Linked DNA regions of Homo sapiens: region 1 is linked to region 2. The links come from fine-mapping of genetic effects on gene expression. A gene starts in region 2. The other region holds a variant in brackets. All regions are shown on one strand. Distances are from middle to middle. Region 1 overlaps NTF3 (neurotrophin 3). Region 2 holds the start of NTF3 (neurotrophin 3).

Region 1 (8,331 bases), 27 kb before region 2:
GGTAGTTGCTTATCTAAGGTCACACAGCAAGTTGGTAACCCAGTAGTGTGGTATAATGGAAAGAAGGCTGAACCATCTATGCAGTTATCTAAGTATTCTGCAGACACCATACTGGGGTCATTTTAGTACCGGGAAGCACCAGACTTCTGCCTCTAAAACCTAATTTCATCATAAAGAAGAGTCCTTCTTCTTAGGCCACATCCTTTACATAAATCCATCCTTAATAATTTGCACCCTTCAGTGGTCTTTTTCTCCATATCCTCATTCTTGTGGTTCCTTCTGTCTGTCCCTCCTACCGCCCACCCCCAACCATCTCTGCCTGTCCACCTATAACCCTGCTGCAGGACTGATCTCAAATGCCACAAAGGCTACCTCCTCCACGAAGCCTTTTGTTATCTGCCACCTTCGAACTCCCTGGATATTTTCATGATCTCTTTTGTAGCTCTTCTATTTTACCTTGTCATTTGTGTATTTGTTTACCTCTCATGACAGTTTCTAAGCTGTGTGAGGGCAGAGATTATGTTTATACTGTTGGACAGAAAAAAGACAGTTGATTCAGAAGGCACTATATGTATAATTTGAGAAAGGCATTTTGAAGTCACTAGTATCTCAGGATGTATGAAATCATGATTTTAAGGATTTGATTTGCTCAAAACATGTTCTCTGGTGTTGCTGCTCTGAAAATAACCCTTTACTAGTCTGGAGGCAGGGTCCAATGCTAGTCTAATATTGTCTTGAAGAAGGCATCCCCTGGGATGCCCTGCAGACCACTTTCCAGTCTTCCAACCCTGGATTGAGGTAATCTATGGTGAAACCTTTTCCAAAGAAGCCTGTCCTCCTGCCTGCAAATCATCCTAGCTTTCTGTCATCTCCATCAGTGAGAAACATTCTGAAAAGAGTCATATAAAGAGCTCTACCAAGATGTCTTCCCTGGCTCTCTTCAGTCACAGTGAAGCTGCTCTGGAGAACCAAAAAGCTAAGGCAGGCCTGGCCTTGGCACATGGCTATGCATGCAGTGTGCGCAAAAAGAACATCCATCATGTCATAATACATGGGTGTTAACTCTGTCCTTCCAGGGTAACAAGGAAGCATTATATTAGTTCAGGAAAGAGAGATTTAATAAGCATCTTAAGAATGTGAAGTTAAAGTCAGGTAGAATTAGAGGGTCCAGCTGTTCTCCATCTGCCTTCACTGAGGATGTTAAAAGAAGCAAAGGTGAATGGAATCCTAACTATTGTTCCATATCTGGGGTGTGGCATGATGTGTCCATGCCGCTGCAAATTCATACTTGGCTATCACTTGCTGGGTGCTTACAATGCACCAGGTACTATTCTAGGAACCATCACACAAATTATCTTACATGTTATATATTATCTTACTTAATCCTTACCTCGAGCCTCTGTGGTAAGCATTATTTCTTATTATAGAGGAGAAAGCTGAGGTTAGAGAATTATTAAAATTAATTATTATTAAGTAGTAGGTCAGTAACTTGAATTCAGGTATTCTGACTCTAATCCTAATGTTCTTCCCATTAAACTAGAGATGGCAAATTGGTAATCCAAGTTCTAAATCAAAGTAATTGGTATATAGCTACTTAGAGACCTATGTGGAGGATTAAAAAACCTTTGAAACTCAATGAGAGAGAGTGCTGTGATTGATTAGTGATGTCTGCTGTAGGCAAAGGCATGACAGTGGAAAAGAATGTTGTAATTGATTAGTGATGCCTACTGTAGGAAAAGATGTGAGAATGGCAGCACAGTTGCTGTATTTATTTGTCATCCCTGCACTAAGACATAATTCAATGAAAGAACAGGCCGTCCTGTGACAACATTTTACCACAAATTCAGTTTTCTACCACATTCTTTTAAAATTTCCCCATACACATCATACACATAACCCTTGGACATTTTCAACATTCTCTAGTTTTCTTTTCCAAGTCTTACGAGTTCTTCATATTTCTTTTTAAATAGCTATTCCAAAATAAGAGTCGTGGATCAGCATGGTTTATGCCACAGGTTTCCCTTCTAAGGGCTTCTTCCTGTAGGCTGCCCCAGTTCAACCTTCCTCATTATCCAGAGAGCTCCTTTGGGGACAGAAAACCTTCTCAACACATAGAGAGGGCACATTTTATGTGACCCTTGAATACACTTCCCTGGGACAATCATTATTGACAGAGGGCTGTTGCTGATGGAGCATGAAGAATGAAGTCAAGGAGAGGCAGGTGTATGAGGACATGGCGGGAGGGTGGTAAGGAGATGGGGATTGGCTTGGGGGTCAAAAGGCAGAAAGTAGGCAGCTGAGAAGTTGCTTTCAGGGTTTAGGCAGGCCGGTGCAGCCTGTTTTGAGCAGAGAGCTGAGGAGAGCACAGAGAACATGGAGAATGACCAACAGCCCATGTAGCCAACCATTTAAAAACTAATAATAAAAGGAAAGAATAAGGGAAAAAATCTCTTCTTCACTTTAAGTCTGCTGTCTTAATCATCTAAGTCATCTGGATGTTTTGCTGCATGGAGGACTGACCACAGCTGAGAACCTAGAGACCAGATCCTACCCAGGGCCTCCTTTAAAGCGATTAAACTCGAATCAGACTATGCTGCACCTCCTGACAGCACAGACGTCATGCTTGGAGCAGCAACCCTGGGAAATGCTCTTTGGGCAAATCAAGACCTTAAAAAATAATTATGGTTCGCACATCCTGAAGCAATAATGACTTCAAAACTCCCTTCACATGTGATTTATACATAAGTATAGTTCTCCCTTGAACCTTCCCCCCCAATCCCACTCTGCACACTCCACCCAAATCCAAGTGGTTAGAAAGTCAATATTCATAGGCCCTGCTAAAAGGCCCAGATGGAAAAACCCTGATCTGTATCAGGAGGAAAAGAACTGCTAACACCACCTGCCATTAAAATTCTCATACACCCAATTGTGCATAAATGCGAATGTGTGTGTGTGTGTTCCAAGATGTTCAAAGAAAAAAGGAGAAAAATTAATTAAGCCTACACCTCTCTGCCAAGGAATCAAATGCTCTCTGGGGCCTGGTATTAAGGGAAAGAAATGCAGTCTTACAGAGCTGCTGGTTCTGATCCAGTTTATTGTGGAAAGAGGGGAGAATGAGGTTAAAACTGGGATGGGGGCTCTGCTATTGACCTAGCTGGTTTTATTTTTGTTATCCCTGGGAAGGTGTCCCAGGTGGTGAAAGGGAATGTTCATTAAATGGATACCTATTCTATGCCAAGCAGTGGCACACATAGAACTAGAAAGGAACAGACAGAGATGGAGAAATTCCTTGGATGACTGGCCTTGTGGTGATAAAAGGATGAAAGCAAAGTTTCCATGGAAGAAACTTAAAATGCATATTGCTAAGTGAAAGGAGCCAGTCTGAAAAGACTACGCACTGTATTATTCCAACTACTATGATATTCTGAAAAAGGCGAAACTCTAGGCAGTCAAAAGACTGGTGGCTGCCAGGGATTGGTGGCAGAGGAGGGAGGAGGGATGGGCAGGTGGAGCACAGGAGAGTTTTAGGGCAGTGAAACTATTCTGTATGCTATAATGGTGGATACATAACATTATGCATTTGTCATAACCCATAAAACTGTAAAACACAAAGAATACACCTTAATGTAAACTATAGACTTGAGTTAATAATGATGGGCTAATATTTGCTTATTAACTGCAACAAATGTACTGCACTAATGCAACATGCTAATAATGGAGAAAACTGGGGAGTGAGGGGGAGGAGTTATACGGTAACTCTGTAATAGCTGGTTAATTTTTCTGTGAACTTAAAACTGTTCTAAAAATTGAAGACTATTAATTTTAAAAAATGAAAGGAGACTAGCTCTGCCTCTGTGAAGCCCCAGTGGGAGGGTGGTGAGGTGGGACCAGGAAAAGGGAAAAGGCCAGAGGACAATCTGGCCCTTTAGGAAAATTTGCAAATGAGGACGAGCATCTGGAATGGCAAATCAGATATTTTTTCAATGTCAGACTTAAAGGCATGAATCAAAAGCACAGATCTCACATGCTAGAGAAGAAAGAACTGGAGACCAGAGACCCCAAAGAGAAAACAATTGAAGGAACGCAGCCCCTCGAAGGTCCTGCTGATAAAATGTGCTCTGGGACCAAGGCCTTTTCCGGGAAACCACAGCCACAGCACCTTGATAACCTGCGTCTAGGACATCCGCTAAGCTCTGGCCTTTTCTCTCTCGTATTGCAACTGCAGGTGTAAAGAAATGGAAATGAAATTTCACAGCCAGGCAATGACGCAATATGCACGTTCCTCCCTGAAGATAATTGAAATAAGAAAACAGCACAAGAGAAGATGAAATCTGCTTATAAGACCCCTGGGAAATAGCCTCTTGCTGGGGTGTGAAGGGAAGGAGGGAGTGCAGTGTGTCACTCTAGCAGGGGAGCAATGGCAACATCTTTGAGAGTGAAGGACAGATGTGTCTTTAACTGGGGGACCTGGGGACAGACACTGAGCCTTGAGCTTCCCAAGCCCTCTTTTCACTCTTCCACTGGCAAGAATTGGCTGCCTCTGAGTATAGGGTTTCCAAGAAACTTTATCAGGGTCAAGGAGGAAGGGTGTGGTTGGCCTCCATCCTCTGACGTCATCTCATTTGAGAATCCAGAAGAGGAAGAGAAGATGAGCTCTCGGTACAGAAAGAACAGGTTTTAGTGAGCCAAACCAGGCATTACCTTTGGGAGGAAGAACACAACTGCAGTGCTCACCAGGGGAAAAATGGAGACAGAAAGGAAAGCCAATCAGCAAAGAGTAAGCTCCAGGCTTCGTTGTTACAGTCAAACCTGCCCGGCCCCCAGTTCTAGGGCGAGTGGGATTTTCCATGGCACGTCAAGAGTCTAAACTAAAGAGTGAGTTACCATCCTATAAAATAGAAGAAG[G/T]GTTTGGGCATGCCCATGTGAGTGAGCAAGGTTGTCTGTCAGTGTGCGTGTGCACGTGTGTGTGTGTGTGTGTATGTGTGCTTGCTTTCCCTACTTACTGGTCACAGAGAAATGAGGACCAGTTTGTCTACCTGCCAAAATCATTTCAGAGCTTGTTTAAAGGACTTCCAAAGAAGGAATAAGCTCCGTGTGGGAAGGGATTAAACCTCATTCAACTTTTTGCCTGGTTGCGTGGCATGGGATAAACATTTGCCAAAGTGAATGAGGGTTAGTCACCTGTTCTGGGAATTCATAGTGCCACCCCAAGGAAGTTTTTTCCTTAATCCCAGCTCTGATCTTTGATCTTATTCCAGATTTCTGCAGGCAAACACCTTCTGTTTTCACTTATTCATTCATTCATCAACTTTTTATTGGCTGCTTATTATAAGCCAGACACTGTCACGTGTGGTTTGGAATGCTACTAGGAACAAGTGGGAATTGTTCCTGCCTTCAAGAAGTCCAGAGTCTCCTGAGAAAGGTGTTGAATCAGGAACTACAATAAGGAATGCTGGGTGCTGAGGATGCTGCAGCATGCAATGGGAGTGTGTGATAGGGAGCCCCAGAATGCGACAGAGGACTAGGGACAGCCTCCCAGAGGCGGTCATGCTCAAGTGGCCACTGCTGCATACTAACAGTCAGGCAAGAAAGGCGTGGTGGCAGGGAAGAGGAGAGCTGCAGTAGTGTGAGCAAATACCCAGGTGCTGTGGCTCAGAGGCCAGAAGGTGCATTGTGCATTCTGGGAAACAAAAACAGCAAAACCCAGGATGGCTGGTGCATGGGGTATGAGTGAGAGAGAGGTGGGGAGAGTGTGAACAGTGTTGAAAAAACAAGGACTCAGAGGCACTGGAGAGCCATTATAAGATTTCAAGTAGAAAAATGACCCAATTAACTTTGCAAAGTATGGAGGATGGCAAGAGACAATGGTGGTTTTGATTAGCGTAGCGGCAGTGGTGACGAGGAGATCTGGACAAACTCCAGAGGCATTATGAGAGTTAGAATGATGAGGACTTGGAGGCTGCCCGATCCTGCGGATGACAGAGAGACAAGCTGAGGTGACTTCCAAGTCTCTGGACCACACACTAGAGTCGCAGGTGGTTCCATTTATTAAGGTGAAAGACAATGGAGAAGACTCACTGGAGTTGGGAAAGTTTGGGGCACAAAAGGAGCCCCTGTTCAGCTTAGCATACACTGAGTTTAGGAGCCTACAAAGACATTTGGGGTATCTATAGGGAAGCTGGATATATGGGTCTGTAGCTAACACAAAGTAATTGTGCATTTGAGAGATAAGATATAAGAGACCTGGGACACTTAGAATAGGCTATGGAGAGTGTATGGAGAGAGGAGAGCCCAGGTCAGATAAAGGAGCAAAAGTCAGCTAAGGAAAGCACGCAGAAACAGCCACAGAGGTAGGACAAAAACCAGGATGCCGTGGTATCCTACCAAGGAAAGAGGGTTTCAAGAAAGAAGACATCATGGAAGGGCCAGGCAAGGCAAAGCCAGAGAAGGGTCTGTGATAAGGCGATGGTAGAAGCCAGATTGCAAGGGGTTTAAGCATTGAACAGGAAATGAGGAAATGGAGCCTTCACTAAAGAAGTTAGGTGTGAAGAGGAGGACACAGTCAAGGTAGGAGCTGGAATGGAGGAACACAGGAACATCAGTGGCCACCAGTCACAGAACCCCGAAACTTCCTGGCAATGACAAGATTCGGTTAGTTTCTAACTTCTGACCATGCATACCTCAAATCCTAATATGCATGACTTTATACAGTTGCTGCTCTTTCTGGAATGCAAAGCACTTCCTGTTTCCTCTCTGTTCTCGTTTTATCCTGTGCAGCAAAAGGAGCGAGATGTTATGTTCTTCCTCTTGTGGGTGAGCAAACCCAGGCACAGACCGTGTCTGCTCTGTGAGCCTGTGGACCTGGGGACGGGCAGTGGAGATGGGAGGCCGTTCTGCGGGCCCCCTGCCTCCCTCAGCACCTCTCTCATACCTGCCCCTATGGGCCACTCAGCACACTCATGGTAGCTACACAGCAGTCATTTAGGGACTCTGGGTCAACTCGGGCCCAAATCACTTGACCTACGGGAGCTTGCTCTGCTTCCCTGTCTATTCCAGGAAGCCTGGTAAAAATCTTGGCAAATATCAGAGCCCAGAAACAGAATTTGGTCCTTGTCATCCCATCTGTGCTGAACCGTGGGAGGGAATCTTACACAAACCTCCCCTCCCAGAGCCAGACCCTCAGCAGAGCTCTGACCCCGAGTACCTGCTCCAGGGGCTGGGGGTGGGGGTGGGGGTGGAAGAGGACCCCCAGAGCTCACGATCAGGGCTGCAAACAGAATGCAGACCCTTTCTCTCCTCTGTCCCTAGAGCTCTCTGAGGAGCCAGGTCCACCGTGCCTGAGGTGGTTAGGTGCCGTTGGCCCCACAAGTGGGGATGGATTAAGTACTCTTGGCTGGGTTCCAACTGGGTCTGAGGGGTACACAGCTCCCAGGGTCCCACTGATTTCTGGGGTGAGTAAAGGAAGCTAAAGGCCGCTGCAAAAATCACAAAAGGAGGCTACCATCCATTTATTTTTCACTCATCAATCAATGCGATTCTATGTGATTCTCAAAAGGGCTGTCACTGCCCTACTAAAGGGCATTTGGAAATGTGTCAAGGTGTTTCTGGTTGCCATGGTGACCGGAAGGGGATGATGCCACTCGCATTTAAAGCTTGCAGTGCATCCTGTACCACTAAGAACCATCCCAGCCCAAGTGACCAGTGCTCCTGCTAAGGAAAGCTCAACCTCAGCTGACGACTGACAGCCCACCATTGACTGGAGGTCCGGACATGCTTGGAGGAAGAAGTCACAGATAAGCAAACATTTGCCTCTCCTGCCCCAAACATGCCCTCCTTTTTCTCTAGTGGCCCGCACAGCTGTGAGGGTTATCTGGGCTGGGGTGGGCGATCATGACCCCCAGACTGCCAGAGAATGTCTTGCTTTCTCAGACTCTGTGGACTGCCTGATTCTAACCACTGACCCTCACTCCTGACACTTCTCCCTGCACATCCCTCACCATCCATGAAAGGCACTTCAGCCAAAAGAAGGATAGAGCCAGCTTCTTGCAAGGCAGCATCTTGGAGTCAGCAACATGTTCCCGATCAGCTGCTGTGTGCCCTGAGCAAGACATGAACTTCTCAGAGCCACACCTCCTTTCCATTGTCCCCAGCACCCATCTAAACAGGGAATAGAACTTTGTCTCTCACTGTCGAGGGTGCAGGTGGGCTATCCTGGAGGATATGAACAGGAATTGGGGCCCCCTCAATCACAGGGGCTATGTGTGTGTGTGTGTGTGTGTGTGTGTGTGTGTGTGTGTGTGTGTGTGTGTTGGGGAGGGGTTACAGAGGCCA
Region 2 (8,331 bases):
ATCTTCATCTCTGGGGAAAGTGGCTGTACCCAACTTGCTGCACTGGGCACAAAGAATTTCAAAGACCCAAAGCCCAGGCTTTCCTCTTACCAGGCAGGCTAGACTTTGCTCTTCTTTTATTCAAATGGTGCCTATGTCAAGGGCAATTATTATTTTTGCTGTTCTCCACGTCACATTTCTTTTGGTGCTGTGGTCTGCATAGCTGATGTTAAAAAATAAAGAAATGTCTGTCTCTGATCATTAATAACATTGATTCTTAGACTACCTTTCCTCTGAATAGCTCAAAGATCTTAAAGATTTCCATCATCTATAATCTAGGTTTGGCTGCCTCCAGCTTCTGGATGAGTAAACTGAGGCAGTTATAAAAAGTTTTATTTACACAATGAGTGAGCAGTAGAGATGCTGTGGGCATCATGATTACTGATTAAGTTGCATTGTAAAGAGAAAGGGGTCCAGATCCTATTTTCACAATGACCTACATACGTGCTAGCACCTGTATTTAATTACATTTCATCTTTGTATGGCTGTATACAACTAAACACATCAAGTTTTGATGGGGGAAAAGAGGAGTGAACTTTCCTTCTCCTTGAGTCATTATATTGCCCCTTTACAAAAAGAGAAACAGAAGAGTTATAGAGATTAAAAATGTCCCCAAAGTCACACTTTTCCCAAGTGGTAGAACTGGACTAGAACTAAGACATTCCCAATCCAGTCTTGCACTTCACCACCCTGCTCTCAGAAATATCTGCCCCGGATCTTCTGACCAATAGTCAAGCCCTATATAAACTATCTCTTACACAGATGAGTTTCCCTCTCAAAAATAAGGTAGACCCTTAAAATGGCACAGCTGTAACTTCATGAATTCAAAAATGTCATGAGTCAAATAAAGTCCTCCCAAACATATGCCCAACGGTGGTCAGAACCTAATCAAATGGGGATCCCCATCGTCTGCTCCAGACAGGCAGATGTGTGCATCACAAAAGCACAGCCTTCACTCTGTTCCTACCCAGTTGCCTCACCAGCCATCTCAGGGTATGGACCCGATCAACGACACCTTTGTCTCATTCCCCAAAGTCTACGGCCCTTCTTTTGTGTACACCTTTTTTCGCTAAAGATGCACATCTGAGTATCCAAGACAATTTTTATCCTTCCCCAGACACACAGAATTCCTGCAAAAACACATACTGGCACCCCCTTCACAAGAGCCAGAATATCCACCCCTCCTATCCACCTCGCTAGTTTTCTCCCAGTTACGTTACTCCAGGCCAAAGTGCATGTGCACGCACCTGCATGCATACCCACCCCCCCAACACACACTCAGGTTAGCTTTACACTCGTAGCCCAGAAAACATCAAAGATGAACAAACACTCCCAGTCCATCTCTTCCTTGATCATGACTTCACCATTCTCCAGCTCCACATAACAGGTCTCATTCCAGCTATGAAGGAGGCTCTGTGTACTCTTAGAAACTCAATCCTTAGAGGGATCTGGACCTGCATTCTGACCTGAAGTGCAGCACCCTCCAATTCCCAGCCCACACCCCACACAAGAAACAACAACACCGTCCAGCTCCCTTCCCAATACACAAAAGTCTACATCATCCCTCTCTTTATGCCCCACTTTTTACAAAACCAGAGATATATTTCAAGTCAGCTTCCCTTTGGCCCCCAAGATCCATAAACATCTCTAGAAACTGAATTATAGACCTTGAAGAAACCTCAACAAGCGTCGAGCTCTGTCTATTTCTGGCAAAATTGCATCAGTTTTACTGAGCCTGGAGAAGGAATTTTTCCAGGGCAGTGTGCCATGCCCCAGTACCCAGCAATGGGCTGAGCATCCAGTAGGCACTCCATTAGCTTTAATTGATTATCAATATGAACTGGTGATAGTGAATTCTCCTATTACATAAGAAACCCATTACAAAACATTATACAACATGCATCCCTGACACCAGGCACAGATAGTGCATTCCTCTACTTACTTCAGTCTTATGCACACATCTCTTCCTGTTCCCACCCAGTGCCAATGCACAAGGACTTTTCCCCTTAAATGTACATCCCTCATTCTAAGCCTCCTCCAATTCTCTTCTCTCTGGGGAGGAAGGAGGGGGGAGGCAAACACCAACACCAACCCGGTGTCCTTCCCTGCAAATGCTTTGTCTTTCCATAAAGAGGATCTGAGCTCACACTTTTCTACCCCCTACATGCCCCAGTGCCATTCCAGCCAAATTTCCCAGTGCACCCTCATGAAGTTCAAACCCCGTGCTCCTCAGATAATCTTCCCCCACCCCCCACACACATCCCTTTGGTAATCCTCAGGCGCCCAACCTTCCACATGCATCCACCTTTCCCTCACACACACAGCCGCCCTCCTACACCACACCCACTCCATGTGTTTGTGCAGGCATGCACAAGCCATCTGTCTTCAACAGGCTGCACCTCTCCTCCTGCTCTGACACCCTTCATAGGCACAGATTTCGCATTAGCTACACCTATGTTCCTGCAAGCTCTTGTCTCCCGCTAAGCACACAGATGCCCATCCGACAGACTCCCCAGAAACACACACCTCCCAGGCACCAAAGAGGGATAGGACTCCAGCTCTTTTGCCACCTTCCCCTACACACACACACACACACACACACACACACACACTTTGGAAAAACATCCCCATCCCTCCCTGACCACTCACTCAATGGTCACAATCTCACTCCATAGATAAGCATATCCCATTCACACACAACCAAACCCTCTAAGTCCAGCTACACTCCAGTCCTCACCAACACAAAATCCCACACACTCTCCCTAGGGGAAATACCCCAGACTTTCTATCTCCCTTCAACACTGTCTACCGGAGCCTGCATTATTTTCCAACCCCCTTACCTCCTAACACGATACCTAAGTCTGTGTGTTTGCGCCCAAGGCAGAGGGGGTTGGAGTTTATCCTCCACATTCTACCTTTCAGCTTTCTTTGTGTGACATGTCAAAAAGGAATTGAGGGCAGGCGGGAGGCAGGCTGAGTACGCTGGAGAACTTCTGAGTGTTGTGAAAACAGGACCTCTGGAAAAGTCTCCTCTATGTTACAACTTTCTCCCATCCTGACGTTTAGGACAGAGCGCTTCCATGTTCTCCTCGTTCGCTGTTTTGCGGGGTAGGAGCGGGCACCTCTTTATTTAAAAAGCAGGTCGCTCAGTGCACTCCATAATCAGCTGAGTTACAAACATCAGGCTCCAGGAGAAACACCCACCCCTTCCAGGCTCCCCTCCCCTCTCAGCAGGCCCTCGCCCCCGCCTCTTCACACACATAAACAAGTCCACAGGCGCACAGTCTCCCGAGCTCTCTAGCTCTGAGCCCGGCGCTCCCGGGAGCAACCTCCATTCGGACTCAGAACCTGCCGCCCGCCGCCAGAGGCCGAGGCCAGACGATCTTTTCGGTGTTTCCCCCACCGGCAATCCCACCCCAGCCTCGATTCCAGCAAAAGGGATCCTTTCTAGTCCACAGCCCCGACACCGTCGGACGCAAGGGTCTCAGTGCCGTGCATCTGAAGCGCAGACGACGAATGAACGCAGCAGCCAAACTCCCGCAAAGAAGCAGCGCCTCCTGGACGCGCACCCACTCCCGCGGAGAGCAACAAGCAGAATCCTACTCCCCCATCCCATGCCCTCGGCCCTCGCCCCTCCTGTCCCTAACCTTCAACTCCCAAGCGTCCCAAATTTCATCAGGAGCATCCACCACTGAGTAAAGCTCTGGGGCAATGGGACAGTTCGGTCCGTCGTGGGACCTTTAAACTCCGACCTGGCTGGCTGCGCGGGTGCCCAGGTCTCCCGGCCTCCCACGCCACCGCTCAAAGTCCGAGAACAGGCTGGACGATACCGCAAGGAGATCCCCTGGGATGGCCGGGCCCGGGTGCCCGCCGCTCCCCGGAGGGGTCCCAGATGTGCGGGCTGCGTACGGAGCTCCAACATCTGCGCAAAGGCCCAGGGTGGGGTGGCCACCGGGTGGGCGCTGGCCAAGAGGAGCCCGGGGCGCGAGGTCTTTTCTGAAAAAACCCTTTCGGGGAACTCCAACGCAGGTACGCGGCGCGTGGCAGTGAGTCCCAACTCCCAAAACTGGAACGCGAGGTTCCGGGTCCTGAGCTGCGCGTCCCCTCCCCCCAGCCCACGCCCGGGCCAGAGTGGTGCTGGGGCGAGCTGAGAATCAGGCTCAGCGGCCGGCAGAGTGCAGGGCGTGTGCAGGGGAGCTGCCGCGGCACCTCCCCGCCCGGAGTTCTGTCTGCCACCCCCTTTTGTTATAGGATGCGCTAGGAGCTTTCTCGGAGGAGCAGGCGGGTCGGTTGGGAGTGGTGGGTGGTTGATTCTGTTGAATCTCTTTCCTGCTCTTTCGTCGTCCCCATTTCCCCTCTTCTGCCCCCACCCTTTCCAATCCAGGTCCCTTAAACCTGATCACTTTCCCAGATTGAGGGAAGCTTCTTGGGCAGCCGAGGGACAAGAGGGGAGGAGGTGGAGAAGGGTGTCCGTGTCTGTGTGTGTGTGTGTGTGTGTGTGTGTGTGTGTGTGTGTGTGTGTGTGTGTAGCGGGGTGGCTGCGGTTGCGCTTCGGCCTGAGCAGATCCCAGCGCAAACTTTGGGGAAGACACAAGCCCGGGAAAGTGAGTGAGCGCGGCGCGATGGGGGTGGGGCGGGATGCGGATCTGGGGCCCCCCGCACCAGTCCACTGGAAAATCCCTCCCCACGTGGACCCCCATCCCCAAACCTGCCCACCCAAGGTGCCCGCCGCCTCCCCTTACCGTGGCAAAAGTAACCATGGCATCCGTGTGGCCGTTTCCAGGGACGTCGACATGAAGAGAAAGGTGGACGCGAGCTCGGTCATTCAAAGTCTCCCCCACCCCGCCGCAGCCACTACCCAGCAGGGGAAAAAGGAGAGGAAGAAAGAAAGGAGAGAGAAGAAAGTAGTTGCGCCGGGCTGCGTCGCGGGGCGGTGCGCGGAGCTGTTCGGAAGGGAGAGGAGCTTCAACTCTGAGTCCCGTGAACAGAATCTGCGCGGTTATAACCAGCCAACCCGGCCAGATGGCTCCGCGCTCAGCGCCTTAACCCCTTCCGCGCCGCGCCGCCCTCCCCCGCCGGCCCGCGCCGCGCCGCGCGCGCCCGCGCCCCAGAGCCCCCCCCCCGCCCTCACTTCGGGACCCGTGGCGGGGAAGGGGTCATTTCTCCTGGCCCCTCTTGAAAAACAAAACCAAACCAAACAACAACAGCAACAAAAACTTCCAAATCTGTAGTATTCTTCAGTAACCCCCACCCTTGAGTTCCCTTTTAGAGATCCAGGAAAAAACGAAACGTTAAATGTATCGTAACAGGTTACATGTTAGTGTCTTCAGCCTTTCTTAGTGGTTCTTTTTCTTGAAATTTTTCTTTTTGATCTTTTTTCTTTCAAGATTTTCTTTACAAGGCATCAGGGCCTTTTCCTGCCTTTTTCCTCAGGAGGATCAGGTCTGAGGCGTAAACTCCTCCTCCAAACCTTAGACCCTTCCAGCTCCAGATCTCTCCCCACCCCCTACCAAGCCCACCCGCCACTCCTCCCCCCACCCCACAGCACGAACACGCCCAAGGACAATCGCTCCCCGGCGAACTCCCCGCTCCCGGGGACCCGCACCCAGGACGCTGTGTCGGCGGTCAAGGGAGGTCAAGGTAGAGGGGCGTGGGGGCGGGTGGTCCGAGGGACTAGGGAGGGGCTGTGTGTGCGCGCGCGTGTTTGCGGGAGCTTGAGTGTGGAAGGGAGAGGGAGATGGATCGCAGCCTCCCATTTCACCCATCCTCCAACTTCTAAACCCCTTCCTTCCAAACTAGGATGGGGCCCTGCAGCTAATCACTCGCCCAGCACCCACCAGTCTGCACGCGGGGACAGCGCGAGAAGCAGGAAAGGCGAGCAACAAACAAACCTGTTCGTGGCGCCCCGAAAGTAATGACGCTCACTTCCCCACCGGTGGATACATTCGAGGAGAGGATAGGGGGAGGGGGTCAAAATCTCTTATTTGGAGATAATTTTAGCTGCCCGTTAGACCTCACTTGCTCCGAGCCGTTCTCTCTAAATTTACCAAGTTAAGTCATCTTGATTTCGCCCATTTGCCATCGAGAGAAGGGGGAAAAATACCACTTAGTGATCAACGAGAAATCGAGAGCCCGGAAGCAGAGTTTTGCCCACTTGCCCGCTTCCCGAGTCCTTGCGTGGTGGACCTCCGCTCCAAGCCCCTCATCCCTTCCTCCCTGCCACTTCAGCCGCTCCTCACATCATCTCCTGCCAGGACCTTTTGACTCACGCGCGACTGGGAAGGGCAGCGAGTATCCCGTTTCCTCCCTGCCCTGTCGTTCGAGGTGTCTAATAAGCAAGCCGTTCCGCGTTTCGGTTAGGGCCCAGGTTCAAAAAATCCAAATACCTTGAAATTGCTTGAGAATTTGGTTAAACATCGGAACTGCACCCACCAGTTCAGGACCAACCGGCCGCAGAGAGTAGCTGGGGGGTTGGATGGGGAGGTGGGAAGGGAGGGGGGAGTCTGGGGGCTGCGTACTAGATAGATTGTACCTGCCTCATCATTATCCTGGCTGATGGGGGTTGCCACATCGAAAACCGCCAGAAGCGCCCACCGAGGCCCAGGGGCGTCACCTCCTGCGGTCCCTCGCAAGGGTAGGGTAGTCCTTCAGTGGCTCCCCTCGTGCCAAAATATCGACGTCTTCCTCAGGGCCAGAAGAGGCTGCCGAGTCGTTCCCTCCACCCAGCCACACAGCACCATGAAGGTTTGGATTGGGCGTGCTCTGTCGGGTTCTGCTTTTCTCCCTCTCATCTGGCCCGCCTCCCTGCCCTCCCCCACTTCCCGCACTTGCCCCCCTCCTCCAGCTTCTCGCCCTGGTCAAAGGAGGGATTCAGGCCCCAGTTTCAGATCCACTGGCAGAGTTCTTTTCTCAAGCTCCAGGTCCTCTGGGAACCTGAAGATTGCAAGGAAAGAGGTGGTTGGCTCCTGCTGCAGCAGGGAAGGGGTTAAATACATGTGCGGGCTGATCTGCAGGCAGCTCCCAGGTCCCTGGCAGTCTGGAGGGAGGAGGGGAAGGGGGGCAAACAAACTTGAAAAATCAGAAGAAAGGAAGGAGAAGAAAAGGCAGCAAGCAGTGCGTTTAGGACTTGGATTTGTTCTGCAGATGCCTTGCACTGGCTGGCCGCGTCATTTTGCCGGGACTTTCGGGGATCCCAGAGTTTGTCTTATTTCCAACTCCAAGGGGTTTTGTCCTAAGCTGGTGGGTCTGTCTTTGCTTGCAATCAACAGGCCTTGTAATATGAGAGGTGACACCTTAATCTTGCCAAATATGTGCTGTGTCTTTGTGGAGAGAGGGGAGGAGGGACTGAGGGAAGGAGGGAGGAAGAGGGAGAGACCCAGACAGGAGCAGAGGGTGAAAGATGCACTTTTTCTCAGAAGGATTGGTTTCCCAAAGGGAGAGCCTTAGCCCTTTTCTGAGTAGAAGACCTCTTTCAGACAGTCTACCTTGAGCACCGCCAACTGCCTTTTCCTTTACTGTTTTTCTTTAGACTTCAGACCTAAAGATTTCTTCCCTCTAAGACTAGGGACTGACCCCCCAGCTCGCTGTTGTGGCTTCCAAGGGAGTGGCAAGGTGCTGAATGAAGAAGGTGGGAAGAAAAAAAGAATTAGAAAGGTGTATTTTTAAGAAGACAGAATAAAAAGATCATTCTCTACTATGTAGAGCCATTTTTAAACTAGAATATTGTGACTTCTAAGTAAATCCGTGTTTCTAAATAGAGATTTTTCTTTTCTATAGAAATACCATTGGTATGGATAGCAAAAGCAAAGATCAGGACTGGAAAGTAAGCTGGCTGCGAGCTTGTGCCCTGTACATAGGCCTGGTTAAGGAAGCATCCAGGATGAGATCTTTTAGGATTCACTAGGTAGGTGCTCCTCTCCAAGTTGACTTCGTGGCCATGACTTTGGCTGCCCATCTGTCGACTGTATTTTTAGGTTGCTGAACTTTCTTCTTCTCCCTGCTGCATCTGAGAGTAAGGCCCTGACTCCTGGAAGTGATTTCTGAGAGCAGGAATCAGATCTTGTTTTTGAAAACCCCCTTTAAAACTCTCTCCTAAAGCAAATTTCCAGAGCGTGCCTTCTGGTTACCCTTATCTTTTGCAATAGCACCACTCTGTGGTTGGAACACTGAACAGAAACAAAACGGCAACGTGGGATTGAATTTTGCCTTTATCTTGTGAAAACAGCACTTATCTCCCTATGTTTGAGCTCAGTGGACTGAATGCTGGTGGTGGGGGCTCAGCGTGTGGTGAGG

What was found. PIP is the estimated chance that this variant, and not a neighbour inherited with it, causes the effect. A credible set is the group of variants that fine-mapping cannot tell apart.
Region 1: its variant is the best candidate, but not a certain one, in a credible set for the expression of NTF3 in sun-exposed skin (GTEx, PIP 0.62).

What each region holds. Positions count from the first base shown.
Region 1 is chr12:5,455,512-5,463,842 of GRCh38, reverse strand. All of the region lies in intron 1 of NTF3 (neurotrophin 3), which reads right to left. Among named protein-coding and RNA genes, the nearest start is that of NTF3, 28 kb to the right of the region's middle. The variant G/T (reference allele first, on the strand shown) is at 4,906.
Region 2 is chr12:5,428,793-5,437,123 of GRCh38, reverse strand. NTF3 (neurotrophin 3) reads right to left here and starts at 5,016. Exons shown (of 2, transcript NM_001102654.2): 1 at 4,782-5,016. The coding sequence starts at 4,799. RefSeq lists an enhancer at 3,674-4,199.